Linked DNA regions of Homo sapiens: region 1 is linked to region 2. The links come from fine-mapping of genetic effects on gene expression. Tissue or cell type: whole blood. Region 2 holds a variant in brackets; the other region holds the start of a gene. Each region is shown on its reference strand, or each on the opposite one.

The links. PIP is the estimated chance that this variant, and not a neighbour inherited with it, causes the effect. A credible set is the group of variants that fine-mapping cannot tell apart.
Region 1: NEXN starts here. The variant in region 2 is the best candidate, but not a certain one, in a credible set for the expression of NEXN in whole blood (TOPMed, PIP 0.80).

The regions. Positions count from the first base shown.
Region 1 is chr1:77,884,097-77,892,096 of GRCh38, forward strand. It overlaps NEXN (nexilin F-actin binding protein), which reads left to right and starts at 4,528. Exons shown (of 13, transcript NM_144573.4): 1 at 4,528-4,663. It overlaps NEXN-AS1 (NEXN antisense RNA 1), which reads right to left and starts at 5,443. Exons shown (of 3, transcript NR_103535.1): 1 at 5,372-5,443; 2 at 3,504-5,172. RefSeq lists an enhancer at 4,473-4,532 and a silencer at 4,773-4,912.
Region 2 is chr10:116,146,750-116,154,749 of GRCh38, forward strand. The region is part of intron 5 of GFRA1 (GDNF family receptor alpha 1); the gene reads right to left. Among named protein-coding and RNA genes, the nearest start is that of SNORD158, 44 kb to the right of the region's middle. The variant T/G (reference allele first, on the strand shown) is at 4,643.

The sequences.
Region 1 (8,000 bases), not on the chromosome of region 2:
ATCTCAAACTTAGCATGTCAAAACTGAGCTCCTTACCACCCCTGCCTAAACCTCCTCTTCCCACAACCTTCCCTATCTGAGTAAATTACAACTCCATTCTTCCAGATCAAAGGCCCAAAACCTCCTTTCCTCACACCTCACATTCAGTTACAAAAAAAAAAAAAAAAAAAATCCTACCATTTCTACCTAAAAAGGCAACAAGGAAAAAAAAATATGCCAGGTATTTCTCACTACCTTCACAACTATCACTTTGGCCCAAATCCCCATTCCTCATTCCGATTATTGTGGAAGCCTCCTAATTAATTGATCTCCCTGCTTCTTCTCTTGCCTCATTTGGTGTATGTGCAGCACTTAAGCTAGAGAGAGTAAACATGTCAGATCATGTCACTATGTTGTTCAAAACCTACCAGAGACCACCCATGTTAGAGTAAAAACCAAAATCTTTACAATGCTGTACAAAAAGAGGCTGGGCACAATGGCTCATGCCTATTATCCCTACTCTCTGGGAGGCCGAAGTGGGAGGATGCTTAAGCCCAGGAGTTTGAGACCAACCCAGGCAACATAATAAGACCCCATTTCTACAAAAACTAAAAAATTAGCCAGGTGTGTTGTTGCATGCCTGTAGTCCCAGCTACTCAGAGAAGCTGTGGCAGGAGGATCGCTTGAGCCCAGAAGTTAGAGGCTGCGGTGAGCTGTGATTCCACCACTGCACTCCAGCCTGGGTCTCTAAAAAAAAAAAAAAAGGCCAGGCATGTTGGTTTACGCCTGTAATCCCAACACTTTAGGAGGCCGAGGTAGACGGATCACCTGAGGTCAGGAGTTTGAGACCAGCCTGGCCAATATGGTGAAACCCCATCTCTACTAAAAATACAGAAATTAGCCGGGCATGGTGACAGGTGCCTGTAATCCCAGCTACTCGGGAGTCTGAGGGAAGAGAATCGCTTGAACCCAGGAGGCGGAGGTTGCAGTGAGCAGAGTTTATGCTACTGCACTCCAGCCTGGGCGACAGAGCGAGACTTATTCTCAAACAAACAAAATCCTACGTAGTCTTGTCTCCTGCTCCCCACTGCACCTCCTATTACCTCACCCTTCACCTACTCAGCTTCACTCGCACAAGCCTCCTGGTTCTTCCTAGAACATGTCAGATAGAATCCTTCTCTGGGCCTTTGTATCTATCCCTGGACCACTCTTCCTCCAAATATTTGCTTCTCCAGATATTTACATAGCCTACTGCCTCACTCTCCTCAAGGCTTTTACTCATATGAGGCTTTCCTTAGCCACTCTATCTAAAATTACAACATCTACTCAGCCTGCCTCCAGCATTCTCTACTTCCCTGCTCTGGTATTATCCATATTGCCATATTACATGTCACTAAATACTACATAGTTCACTTATTTGCTTATTGTCTGCCTTCTTTCACTAGAATGTATGTTCCATAATGGCAGGGATTTTTCCTTTATCACTGCTGTATCCTTAGCATATAGAACTGAATATCTGTTGAATGAATGAATGATGAATTGGTGGGAAAATAAGCAGGCCTTGCATGCTGTGAGTAGCTATCAGTGTTCTACAGAGAGAATGGAGAGCTTTGTTTAATCTGGTGAATCTATTGGGTGGATATAAAAATAAAAAATTGTTAAGTTTCTAGTTATTTATTTATTTATTATTTTTTGAGACAGAGTCTCACTCTGTCGCCCAGACTGGAGTGCAGTGGCATGATCTCGGCTCACTGCAACCTCCACCTCCTGGTTTCAAGCAATTCTCCTGCCTCAGCCTCCCGAGTAGCTGGGACTACAGGTGCACGCTACCACACTCAGCTAATTTTTATATTTTTAGTAGAGACAGGATTTCGCCATGTTGGCCAGGCTGGTCTCGAACTCCTGACCTCAAGTGATCCACCCGCTTCAGCCTCCCAAAGTGCTGGGATTACAGGCGTGAGACACCATGCTCAGCCAACTCACTTCTTTAAATCACAGAAATAAATATGTAATTATAAATTGATATGTATAGGGGCAGGGCACAGTGGCTCACACCTGTAATCCCAGCACTTTGCGAGGCCGAGGTGGGTGGATCACTTGAGGGCAGGAGTTCAAGACCAGCCTGGCCAACATGGTGAAACCCCATCTCCACTAAAAATACAAAAAGTAGCCAGGTGTGGTGGCACGCGCCTGTAATCCCAGCTACTTTTGAGTCAGGAGAATCGATTGAACTGGGGAAGCGGAGGTTGCAGTGAGCTGAGATCGTGCCACTGCACTCCAGCCTGGGCGACGGAGCGAGACTACATCTCCAAATAAATAAATAAATAAATAAATAAATAAATAAATAAATAAGCAAATAAATAGGAATATATATATATAGGGAAGAGAAAGGTGGGATGAAAGGTGAGGTGCAAGGTGGGGAGAAAGGTGGGATGCAAGGAAGCCTTCTCCGAGGAAGCAGCATTTAAGAAGAGATCGGGAGGATATGTTGAAGTTAGGTGAAGGGGAAAGTGGGAGAAAGGATTTCATGCAGGGAACAACTTATACAAAGGCCCTGCAGCCAGACTGCCCATAGAAAGTTTCATGAACTGAAGAAGGCCAAGGTGATGGCATCAAAGAGAGCAAGGGCACAAGCAAGACTACCAAGACCACCTATCACTATCCGTAGTTCGGTACATTTAAATAATTTTAATTACCAATTTTGAACTTTTCTGTAATCGAGGAATGAATGGCTTACCCTCCTTAGAAAAGTTTCCATCCTGAGTAAATACTGTGGGGATGGGACTGGGGAACAGAGTTATATTTGAGTAGAAGGCCTTTTGTGTGTACGGGTGTGAGAGAGAGAGAAACAGAGAGAGAGAGGGAGTTTCACTCTTGTTGCTCACGCTGGAGTGCAATGGCGCCATCTCAGCTCACAGCAACCTCAGCCTCCCGGGTTCAAGCGAAGTGGGTTCTTCAACCTCAGCCTCCCAGGTAGCTGGGATCACAGGCGCACGTCACCACGCCCGGCTAATTTTTTGCATTTTTAGTAGAGATAGAGTTTCACCATGTTGGCCAGGCTGGTCGCAAACTCCTGACCTCAGGTGATCCACCCGCCTTGGCCTCCCAAAGTGCTGGGATTACAGGCAGGAGCCACCGCGCCCGGCCTTTTTTTTTTTTTTTGGAGACAGAGTCTCATTTTGTCACCCAGACTGGAGTGCAGTGGGATGATCTCTGCTCACTGCAACCTCCGCCTCCTGGCTTCAAGTGATTCTCCTGCCTCAGCCTCCTGAGTAACTCAGATTACAGGTGTGTGCCTCCACACTAGGCTAATTTTTTGTATTTTTAGTAAAGACGGCCTTTTGCCATGTTGGTCAGGCTGGTCTTGAATTCCTGACCTCAAGTGATCCACCCGCCTCGGCCTCCCAAAGTGCGGGGATCACAGGCATGAGCCACCGCGCCCAGCCCAGAAGGCCTTTTCAACATCCCTGAAATATAACCTGAGCACCGCTGTCTGCTTAGGGCCTGAAGGTGGAAGTGGTTACCTTTATTCTTTATCTGGATGTCATTTCGATTTTTTTTTCAAGTGCAGTGAAGAATTAAAGATCTCGTCCACCAAAAATACTCCGAGTGTGCATTTCGGGTTTTAATATGGTATTGTCTGATGGGTTTGACAGGCTGGCGGTCCAAGTTGAAAAAGGTCTGTGGGTGTCTAATAGTCAAAGATGCCTTTATGAAGCTTTAGAAAGACCAGATATGGTTTGCCTTCAATTAAGAAAAAGGTGGAATATAAAGATATTTGTACTTATATAAATATATTCCTTCTTTTCTTCTCCTCCTCCTCCTCTGCCTTCAACTTTCTTCTTCTTCTTCTTCTTCTTCTTCTTCTTCTTCTTCTTCTTCTTCTTCTTCTTCTTCTTCTTCTTCTTCTTCTTCTTCTTCTTCTTCTTCTTCTTTTTTAACTCTCCTTTTAGAGTTAAAGACTGGAGCTAAGAACAGGGGAGCAATAGACAGATGAAGTGTTCCCGGATTGCTGCCCCACGCTCTTTGTAATAAAGGAAAACTTGGCCAAAGGTCAATGCTTAGGGTAGTAGAAGATATGTAGTGGCTTGGCTTCTTGACTGGAAACTAGGACGGGTAGAGTAGCTGAGAGAAGTGGGCCCCAGAGCAAACTGGTTGCGGGTAGGGGGAGCCAGCTTCAGCCCGGTAATGAAGCCCATTTCAGCCTCATTCCTTTCCCATGGCGGAGGCAGCCTTCCTTCCCCAGGCCTGGCTGGAGGTGGAGGCAGGCCCAAAGTTAGGGGGTCAGCTCGCGCACCTAGGGCCGGGAGACAGACAAATTCTGGCGGAAAGTTGGCAGCCACGGTCCCCCTCCCCTGCTTTTCTCCTCAACTCTCCACCCCCACTCCGGGTGATAACGGCGGAGGTGGGGGGTTGGGGGAACTGGCCTTGTGTTTTGGAACAGCTGCAGCCGGCGCTGGGCCCGCCTGGAATGCGGGAACAGGCTGCACACCAGGACTTTTATGGAAACTTGCTGCTGGAGACGGCGGCGGCGGCGGCGGCAGCGGCAGCCAGAGGACTCCCAGCGGCTGGAGCAGAAGTGTTAGCGGCCAGAGCTCCCAGACCCCTACCCACAGCCAGGCGGGACGCGCACAGTCCCTCCACGCGGAAAGAAGTACCTTCGCCGGTCACCGGCTCCTGCAGGGTGAGAAGAGTTGGGGGAACGTGGGCTGGGGGGAGTGGAGACGGAGGTGTCGGGTCCCCTGGTGGGGGCGGGGGCGGGAACGGCGGCTGCAGAGAGGCGCTCGGGGTCTGCGGCTTCTGGCCGTGCTCCGCTGCAGCTCCGGAGGGCGCCGGGCGCCATACAGCTGTGGTCCGCGCTGGCCCCGGCCCGGGCGAACCCTGCCTTGGAGCCGCATCCTGCGGGCTCGGCGGGGTGCCTACCAGGGGCTGCCCCAGGGTCTGAAAGTGTCGGCCGGCCTTGGGCTTCTGGTTGCAATGTCTTTGCCCTGCTCCCCTGCGCCTTGTCGGCTGAGTTTCGGGTGCGTTCCCTACTGTAGGGAGGGAGCCCTCTGTGAGCGGAGTGGGTGCCGATCCCTCGGCTGAACCCTTGGGGTCCTTAGGGAAGTTCAGTGCCGTCCCCCACCACTTGCCCCAGCCGCGGTCTCCGTCTCTGCCAGCAGTGCCAGTTAAGAAATCCTTTCTGATCGGTCTCTGTGGAAGATGGGGAGAAATATGATTTAACAGCCTATTACTCCCCCCCCACACCCCCGCATATCCCCCCACTCCTGTCTCCAACCCTTTTTTTTTTTTTTTTCGTGATTCTGCCCGAGGTGGGATGCTGGGGGTTGAGCAACTAGGGCTGGAAGTTTACGAAGTTTACGTAGTTTAAGTGAGTGAAGAATGTAGTCACCTCTTGAGAACTCCCTTTGCCTATATGCTTTTGAAAACGCCAAACCATTCCAGCTGTTTGTAAATTGTGAAACGTTCTACAAATGCATTAGCATTGGCATTTATAAAGAAAATGACGAAGTTGAGAGGTTATAGTTGGTTACTGCAGTGACTTAGAGATGCTCATTTTATAGTTATTAAAGCACAACGTGAACCAAGTTGGCAGAGAGATAACAAGGTAAAAATAGCATAAGGATATGTCCTAACAAAATGTCCTTGGTGAAGACACAGGTAGAGAAAAGAAGCCATAATAAAGAAATTAGTTCCCTGACCAAAACAACGGGAATATCATTCATCGTTAAATTTTGTTAATGAATTCATGTAGCAGCGGCCCATTGGCCTTCGAGTCACAACATAACTATGTCTTAGGTAATGTGATTAAATAAACTTAAGTATTTATACTTAAGTTCATATCTTAGTCACACGTTATTTATATCTTAGTCACACGTTATTGAGTGGACCACATAATTTCCCCCGCTAAACATTATCCTTTACAGGTTAAACTGCTGCAGTTAGAAAACTTTGTCTCAAATTCTTTTGAGTTTGGGGTATTGTTAAGAAAAAATGCATAATTAATCAAATGAGAGAAAGGTTTTTTGGGGGGAGGTATAATTTGTATAAGTAAACTTTGATTAACCAATGTAGCTGTTTAAGTTTCTTCTTCCTTACAATTAACACCGTATTTTTGCAGATATTTTATATTTTGACTAATGCTTCTGAGGAACAATTTAAAGAAAAATGCATGCAATTATGTAGTTTATCTGCAATTCCCTTAAAGAATTCTAAGCTAAAACCACAACAAAATTATTTTAAATCCAGTTTTCCTCATCATAGTTACAATGTAATCCAGTTTTAATAAAAGATTCATATTTTAAAATCCATTTTCAATTGAAATGTAATGAATAGCAATTGTTCCTGCTCACCTTAAAATGGAATTTGTGCTATTTTTGAAAATTTGACATGTAAGGCTGATCATTGTCAAAATGTATGTCATCTTGAGATGACTATATTTAGCATCAACAAAGGAATGCATTATCTAGGTTTTTGAACAGTCTTTTTCCCCTGAAATTTCACTTGAAGTATTTAGGTTAGGGTTTCATTTTTGAGCAGAATAAAAACTAAATATGCATATTTGGAAGACATTAATTGGGGATTCAGATTGCTTAGAATCTGAGCGGCCTATAATGACATACTTCATTTATTAAAAAAAATACCTGTTATCTTTGAAATACCCTAAAAGACAAAAAAAAGGGGGATTATTTAAATATGAGAGTTGTGCACACCTAAAAGAAAGAAAATAATGCAGTGAATGTGGAAAAGTATGTAACAGACAGGTAAAAGTCTAAACGTTTTTATAGAAGAGAGGACTGTTATTTTATAGTTATGTAGGCCACACACACACAGAACATCTTGGTAGTTTATAATTTGGAGAGAAAATGATTTATAACATTCTTAACAATTTCACATATTTCTGTTCTTATTTAATCAATCTGCGGTCCATATCACCTGTGTAGTTTCTTTCATGTTCTCTTTCTGGGTTTATAATTGCATAGTTACATATTATATACATTTGAAATGGCTACATTTTCCTTTATTATTTAAATATTCAGTGTATAGTTTGGCTTAATTTATAGTAGTTTACTTTCTATACTCCAGGGTGGGTGGATTTGTACCCAGAAATCCACCTTAAATTTTAGTTTAATTTGTATTATAATGTTAATACACCATGTTATATTTATGGTTAAAAATTATGGAGAATGGAAAAAGGGGCTCTTGTAATCTGACACTCTTACTGTTAGGATTTTGATGTATTTCCTTTAAGTCTTTTTCCCATGCATAGAACTCTTTCTTTTTGCATTGACATATCTCAATAAAACAACATGTGAAAGCATCCCATGCAGTGTCTGCCATCCAGTAAGTGCTCAACAGGTGATTCTTTTTCTTCCTCCTTTATTTCCTTCTTGACATCTCTTCCTTTTTACTCTTAGATTAGAAGACAAGCAGATTGGGGCTCCCTATATGAGGTTTCAAGGTTGGTGAAATTCACTTCTCACCGTCCATCCTGGGCCTCTTCCCTGTCTTTTCTTCCCCTTCACTCTTTCTGGCCAAAATAGGCCTCCCCTTTGACCCTTTCCATTTTGTCAGTGTTGTCTATTCATTTAGACTAAGGCTATGGCAGTCAAAAAGTCGACAGTCAAAAAGACACCTTTTACTTCCTGATTACCAAGTGTGGAAAAAAAGTAAAAAAAAAAAAAAAAAAAAAAATCAAAAACAAAAAAGACACTTTTGGGGCTGGGTGTGGTGGCTCATGCCTGTAATCCAAGCACTTTGGGAGGCTGAGGCGAGAGGATCCCTTGAGCCCAGGAGTTCAGGACCAGGCCTGGCAACATAGTGAGACCCACCCCCATCTCTACAAAAAATTTAAAAATTAGCCAGATGTGGTGGTGCATGCCTGTAGTCCCAACTACCTGGGAGGCCGAGGCAGGAGGATTGCTTGAGCTCAGGAGGCTGAGGCTGCAGTGCACCGTGCTTGTACCACTGCACTCCAGCCTAAGCAACAGAGTGAGGCTCTGTGTCAAAAAAAAAAAAGA
Region 2 (8,000 bases):
CTGTCCAATCCTGCTGGACAGAAGGGAACGTGGAGGGAAGAAAGCTCAGAGTGAAAAGCGACAGTGATCTTCACCAATTGCAGTTAAATCTCTCACTTTTGCAAATTTTACAAATTTTTACAAAAACATATATTCATGTAAATGCACTACAAGGGCCTCTCCTAGGGCTTGTGGAAGGGAGGTGCCACAATCTTAAACTTCATTAGCTTCACAGGAAATACACCCCTGGGGATCATGGGATGAAAAAGGATCTGTAGTGAATTTATTTATTTATTTGTGTGTGTGTGTGTGTGTGAGAGAGAGAGAGAGATCAGATGCAAATATGTCAAAATGTTAACAATTTGATAAAGGTGGGCTTGTACATACATTTCTATTATTGTTGTTTACATTTGCTTGCATATTTGAAATGTTCCATTAAGAGGTAGAGATAGAAAAAGAGATAGAAACAGAGACAGAAACAGAGAACACGCTGAGTGCGCTTGTGTCCCGAAATCTCCTGGGGAACAGCTAATGGGAGTTCTGCAGAAATAGCTTTGAGAGAGCCCTTTGGCCCTAGGGGGAGGGGAGTAGTAGGAGGGGCAGCCTGACAGATCCTGTGGCAGCTGTCAGTCACCAAAGGTCAAGCGCATCTGCACAATTGGTTGGAGCTGGTGGTTCACACTGCACCATCTCATCTAAAAACACGCATGGTGATGAGTCCTTTTTTTTTCCTGGAAGACACTAGCTTATGCCCCAGCTCTTGACTCCCCACAGAAAGGGCTACCTGTTTTATCAAGAAAAAAGAAAGTGCTAGCGCCTAGTGTGACTCTGTCACCACAAGTCACTTCACGTCAGCTGGCACATGTCAAAGAATGACACAGAAAGCTGCCACCTGCCATCCTCACACAGAGCACATCAAACTTCTTTTTGTAGAACACTTCAACAGCAACCAAGAGAAAATTTCCTTTATGAACCACAGAGCCATCTCTGAATGAGAACGGAGGTGAAAGCTCCTTTCCTAGAACTGGAGACAACAGAAGAGGCAGCGACTCTGCAAAAGGTCTCAGGTTAAAAATAGACCCTCCGCTATTCTCACTCAAACCTCACGCACGCTCCTCCCCCAGATATCCGCTTCCGGGGGACCCCAGTGGAGGTGTCAGAAAGCCGCAGGTGGCTTTTTTTTGGAATACAAGTTGTAACATTTTCTGCCTAAAATGAAGTACAGTAGGATGTGATAGTTGAGATTCTTTTTACTGTGGTTTTATCTAGTGTGAAGGCAAAGAACGTGTGTGCGCGCATGCATGTGTGCATGTGCGTGTGTGCATGCATGTGTGCATGCGTGTGTGCATGTGTGTGTGTGCATGCGTGTGTGCATGCATGGGTGTGTGTGCATGTGTGTGGGGTGGGGGGTAGGGACTGTTGAGAATTTTGCCTTTTGTCTTCCGGTTTCACCTTACAACACTTTAAAATAGTTACTAAGAATTAAAAACTTCAGGGCCAAATGTGACCTCAGAGAGAATCTAGTCCAATATTCTAATTTAAAGGTGAGGCACAGCAGTTAGCTAGCTAATAGCAGAGTCAGGAGAAGAACCCAGAACTTCTTCCCATAGCTGGAAGCATGTGTGGTGTGCAGTGATTGAGGGTGAAGACTCTCAACAGGACTCCCAGGGCTGTACCCCACTTCTGACCCCTGTGATCATGCAAATGTGAGCAAGTCATTCACCTCTGTGCCTCCATTTCCTCATCTGTGAAGTGGGGATATGATAATAACAGTACAAACCTCAGGGGTTGTTTTAATGATTAAATGAGATAATATATGCCTAGCACATAGCAGACGCCAATAGTCTTGGCTGTTGTTAGTTTTATCATTCACCAGTCACTTGCTTCTTCCACCCTGCCAGGACTCCCACGCTCAAAAGATTGTTCCAGAATGAGCTTTACTAGGGGGTACATATGGACAGCCTCATAAATATAAAATGATCATTTCCATGTGATGGCTTTTTTGAAGTAATTGGCTTTGATCTTAAGAAGAATAATCATTAAATACAAGAAGAAGCTTATTCCAGGGCACGAAGAAAAGAGAAGAAGGATGAGAGAATGAAGAGCTGGCTGAACTAAAAATGGGACAAGTGAGAAAAATGCAGCTGTATTCTAATGGGATCAATTTTTAACTTGATTCAAATTAAATTTCAAGCACCTTATTTTTTAAAGAAAAGAAATTGTTTTAATAACAAGAGCACACTGGGTCTAAGGACTGTTGTACACATTCAGAAAAGGGACTGGCTGGACACTGTCACCTCCCATATGCCCCACAAGCCTGTTGGCAATGAGCAGTAAGTTCTCTGGATCAACTACCTCCAACATTAGACACATCTTTAAAATATGCTTCCAGGATGCTCCTGGAAAACAGGAGATGTTATAGCCAATTATTGAGGATCTCAACATGCTCGAGAATACTTAGGGTATAACAATGAAGTCATTACTCTTTATCTCCTTGAATTCCAAGAAAGCAAGAAATAGCAGCACAATAAAAAATCCTTCATAACAGTTGATTAGAAAATATGGCCTGCAGAAAATCAAGCTCTTTGCACATTAAAAATCCAAACATGTTAGAGAAACAGGGATTTTTAGCCCCCCACAGCTTTAACACAAAAGCTCACATTAATAAGATACAATTTGGATTTGCATTTTTTAATAAGCTAGGGATCAAAGGGAACACATAGCTGAAGGGGTGTTAAGCTGTGTTCACGAAAACTGCTCACTACACACTGGAGGAAGAAGATACATTCCCCCCTGTAGGAAGACACCTATAATTTTAGAAATATAAAACGTATTCTCTCGTTGATACATCATTACTGATGAACAATTTCCAAGCATTTTGAATAAGTTCAGGTAGATTTCACCTGCCTGTCTACCTAATGGACTCAGTCTATCTTAATGATACAGATTCCAATGATTTAATTGAGGACATCCATGAAGGAATTGATGTAGGACTTTCCCTCCTATGTACATTTTAGTTATATAAAAACAAGTACCAGTCCCTTAATTCCTCAGGCTGGGTAGGATATGAGTGTGGCTTCCTATTATCAAACCATTATGATTAAAAACAAGACCACTATTATTTTAAAGCTTGAAATCAGGGTACCAAGGGATGGGAGAGACTCATGCAGAAACGCTCCTTCTTAGTATGTTCCAAGCACTCCGCAAAGGATCCCTGGAAGGCAGATGCAGTTATATCCTTCTAGAGCTTAATTATTAATATTTGCTGATGGCTTACTATATGTCCAACATAGTACCAACTCACCACTCTTCATGGATTCTTCTTTCGACACTGTTCCTCCATTTTCAAAGCAAGGAAGTGGAGGCCCAGAAAGGCTAAGTGGTAGGGCTGCAGTTTGAATTCAGGCAGATGAACACCAGCACTAACCTCTGGGTCTGCTGCATTCCTGAAGGCCTAGTTACTCCTCCTCTCCCACTACCACCACCCTCCAAGCCATCCCAATAGTGGTCCTTGGAGTCCAGATGGTGCCTCCTCCTTCCACTTTGATAACCGAGCTTCCTCTAACTAATGTCCTTGCTGTCACATTGCTCTTCCTTAAAAAAAAACTCTGGCCCTACTTCATTTCCATCAGGAACATTCCCAGATCAGGCTGGTCAGCCTTTCCTGCTGCAGTTCCCGGTCAATATGTGATCTCTTAGGTGGGAGTCATGGAAATGCTTCTGAGGGGTCTCATAGGACATGCCCCTCTGGGTGTTTGAACAGCCCATGCCTTTCTAAGAACGGTTTCCCATGTAACTGTTTTCCTGTCTGCCCCAAGAATATTCACCAGTGGCACTTGTGGCTGCAGCGTTTACCCTGAGATAACTTTGCCATGAAATATCTTGCTTTTATTATTATTTTTGCATCACTCTAGTATATTGACTTTGGAAACAAAACATCGTTTTATTTATAGCATTCTGTTTTTAGTAGTGGAATTTCCACTTACAAAATATAGTAATTCTCAATTGCTGAAAAATGCCAAATCCTAGAAAATGTAGCATCCCTACACGTGATGTTAACATTGTTCCCGAACAGTTGTTGGCCAAAAATTCATTTGATGAATCTGATTTTTTTCTGAAATAGACGATTCAGATGATTCAGATGTTAGTTCTGTTTAGAAATAACTCCAGGAACAGTTTTTATATTTTATTTTCGCATCGAAAATCAGTCAGATTTGCTTCAGCCTCAAAGAGCATGTTTATGTAGGATTAAATGAGCACTGGCATTGAGCTGCACTTTTTTTTTTTTCTAAACGGGAAAAAGGGTTAAAGAACATCCCCTGGGAGTCCTTCCCATGAGCCACATCTGACTAAACTGGGCTCACCACCTGGATCAATGGAATACTTTTCTCCCAGAAACCTGGTACTGCTACTCTCTGTGGACTGCTTACTGTTGGAACAGATATCAAGGCAAGCATCTGTACAAGCTCCAGGCATGCTTTCTGCTCCTAGGTTTCCAGAGACATGCCTAGGTTCTTACTCCTCTCTGTGAATGAAGCAAGTTGGGTTGGCCTCTGTTAGCCACAATCAAGAAACCAGTGACTAAGAAACATTCCAAGGGGACACTCTGGCAGTTTATGTTACTGAATTGGTGACATGAGGAAACCCCTGGCAGAGATGTCAG[T/G]AACCCCCACACCTGTTAGAAGGCCAAATGGGGAAGGGGCACCCCACTACATCACCACCACTGACTCTTCTCTTGGGGGGATGTAGCCAATGATCATTAACTAGAGACTAGAGAAGTAACTTTAGTCATTGGATAAAATGGAATTTAAGGAGAGACTTGAATGAAAACATAGATCTGCTGGGGAGTTGAGGGGCTGTAAGCTCCAATGGGAAAATAGAGGGAAGAGGGAGAGCCCCTATGGAATTTGCAAATGACATAGAACGGGGCACCAGGAACTGATGGTTACCAAGGGGAGGAAGCAGGAGGATACGCACCACACAGTGAAGACCTGGCAGACCATTGGCCTTAAGGATAGCCAATGGCCATTCATTTCTTTGTTTATTGAGGATCGACTGTGTTCCTGAAATAAGGCATACAGTTTAGATACTAGTGGAAGAGAGAAGCCAGGCAAACAAGCAAATAAATGAACAAGATTCATTTTATGGAGGAAATAATATGATAAATGAGGAGTTGACTCTTCTACTCCACTTTAGGGAGAGTAATCAGGGAAGAGCTCCCTGAGAGGTGACTTGAGAGGTGGAGTGAGTTGAGGCAAGCCCTAGGGCAGGGAAAAGCTTGGTGATTTGAAGAAATGATTAAGGAGACTGCTGTGTCTGGAGCATAGCGTGTGAGTGGACAGTGGTAGGAAACCAGGTGGGAAAGGCTGATGGGGCAAGATTAGACACTGATTCATCTGTGTGGAAAGGAGTTTGGATATGATTCTAAGTGCAATGGGAAATCACGATTCGATTCATGTTTTAAAGAGATAATTTTAATGGATGGGCATGATGATGTAAGATGGACCAGAGAGGAAGCAGGAGCACCAGTTTGGAGGGTATTGCAATAAGCCAGTACCCCACGCTGTGGAATCACACATCACCGTCTTCACAACCTTTTAGAAACGTTCACCAGAAAGCACATGCACACTGTATCCATCTGTTCTTGTGTTGCTATAAAGAAGTACCTGAGGCTGGGCTCAGGAAGCTTACAGTCATGGTGGAAGGCAAAGGGGAGCAGGTGGTGTCACATGGTGGGAGTAGGGGCAAGAGGCCCAGCAGAGGGCAGGGACCAGAATCTTAAGCAACCAGATTTCATGTGTACTGAGTGACAACTCACTCATCACCAATGCGATGGTGTTAAACCATTCACGAGGGATCTGCCCGCCTGACCCAATCACCTCCCACCAGGCCCCACCTCCAATATTGGAAATCACATTTCAACATGCGATTCAGACGAACAAACATCCAAACCATATCACATGCCCTCAGCAGCAGTTGGGTATGCTCCGATTTAAATATCCAAGGAAGTGTCTTTTGTTTTGATGATGTTTCAAACTCACACACATTTGTGACCATGATCACAAGGCAAAGATGTGCTGTGAACTTCTTAAAAGAATTTGGGTTTCTTTTAGTATCTGCTACATTAGATTTGCTAAGCTGATGACATTTTAGTATTCAGCAAGTAATTACTGTTTATTAGGAAGACAGTAGATGACAAGTGCTTTTATTGAGCACTGAACTGTGTGTCAGAGCTGGACTAAGTGTGTTATAAACCTGATCTTATTTAATGGTTAGAGCAACGAACCATCCATCCATCCATGCATCCATCTATCCATCCATCCATTCATCCATCCAACAAATAAAAACTCCGAGGGGGCCTCCTTATTGTCCCAATTTTACAGATCAAGAAATAGGCTGAGGTAGTTAAGGGATTTGTTTAACACTACAAAGCCAGTCATCTATGAAGTTCTAGAGCCAGGAGACTGGGTTTAGAGGTTGGACACGAAGGTTCTCAAATGTTGCAGAGACAGAATGAGCTACACTCTGACTGATAAACAAAGAATGAAGCATTTCCCAGAGCACCCAGGGTTACCATTTCACCATCCTTCCTCCCTTTATACATCTTTCTGGAATTTCTAGAGCAAGAGTAGGTTTGTGCACGTGAGGACTAGGATACATGTGAAAAGTGATCAATCTCCCATGGTTACCTGGTCAGGGTCAAGCCTTTGCAGAGCAACAGGCTTTGTCAACTACATCCCACTTAAATGACCCCAGAGTTCCTGACAGGTTGAGTGCTGTCTGCTGGTTTAGAAATTAAACCACCACTGCCTTAAAACATTATTTTTTGGCTAGCTTCCATTTATTTGAGAATCCTTTAAAAAGTAGTGGCTTGACCAAGTGTGGACATAAACAATATAGCTTCTAAGAAATGAGAAACTATAAGAAATGAGAAACTATATTAATGACTTGGAGTAAGCAAAGATTTCTTCAATAAAATGCAAAGAATGCCTAGCATAAGGGAAAACTGATAAATTGGACTGCATTAAGTAAACTTCTGTTCATCAAATGATACCATTTGAAAAGTGAAAGGCAAGCTACCACATAGGAGGAGACATTTTTAATACATTTATCTGACAAAGGACTTATATCCAGATTTTATAAGCACTCTATAAATCAATCAGAAAAAGACAAGCAACCCAATAAAAAGAAATAATAATAAGGAAAGCACTCAAACATGCATTTCAAAAAGAGAACATTTAAATGGGCAAAGAAACATGCAGAAATGTGCTTAACATCATTACATCAGGGAAATGTAAAATAAAACCATAGTGAGATACCACTACACACCCACCAAGATGGCTAAAATGAAGAGACAAAAACAAACATGAGTGTGTCCATCCATCACTCTTACAATCTGCTGGTGGGAGTGCCAATTGGTAGGACCACTTCGGAAGTCTAAACTGTCTGGCAGTACTAAAGCTGAATATAAGCATTCTCTTACGACCTGGCAATTTTACTCAACAGGAATGTGTCTATACGTTCACCAAAAGACACAAATGAGAATTTTCATTGCTGCTTGATTTATAGCCCCAAACTGGATACGACCAAATATCCAACTGTAGAAAGGATAAACTGCAATGTAGTCATACGATAGAAAAACATACAGCAATTAAAATTAACAAATTATTGCTATATGCAACATCATGACTGAGTCCTATGAACTCATGTTGGGCAAAAGAAGCCAGTCTCAAAAAGTATATATTTTATTATTCCATTTATATAAAGTTCAAACAGGCAAACTTAATCCATGCTGACAGAAGGCAGAATGGTGGCTACCTTTGTGGGGAAAGTGACTAGAAGGAGTTAGGAGGGTGCTTCTGGATCCTGGTCATGCTTTATTTCTCCATTGGCTGGGCTTCAACAGCTGTGTTCACTTTGTAAAACTGCATCTAGCTGTATAGTTATGATTTGTTCACTATTCTGTGAATGGCAACTGAAGTTAACTTTAAAAATAGTGACTCCTAATGCCTTCATCACAA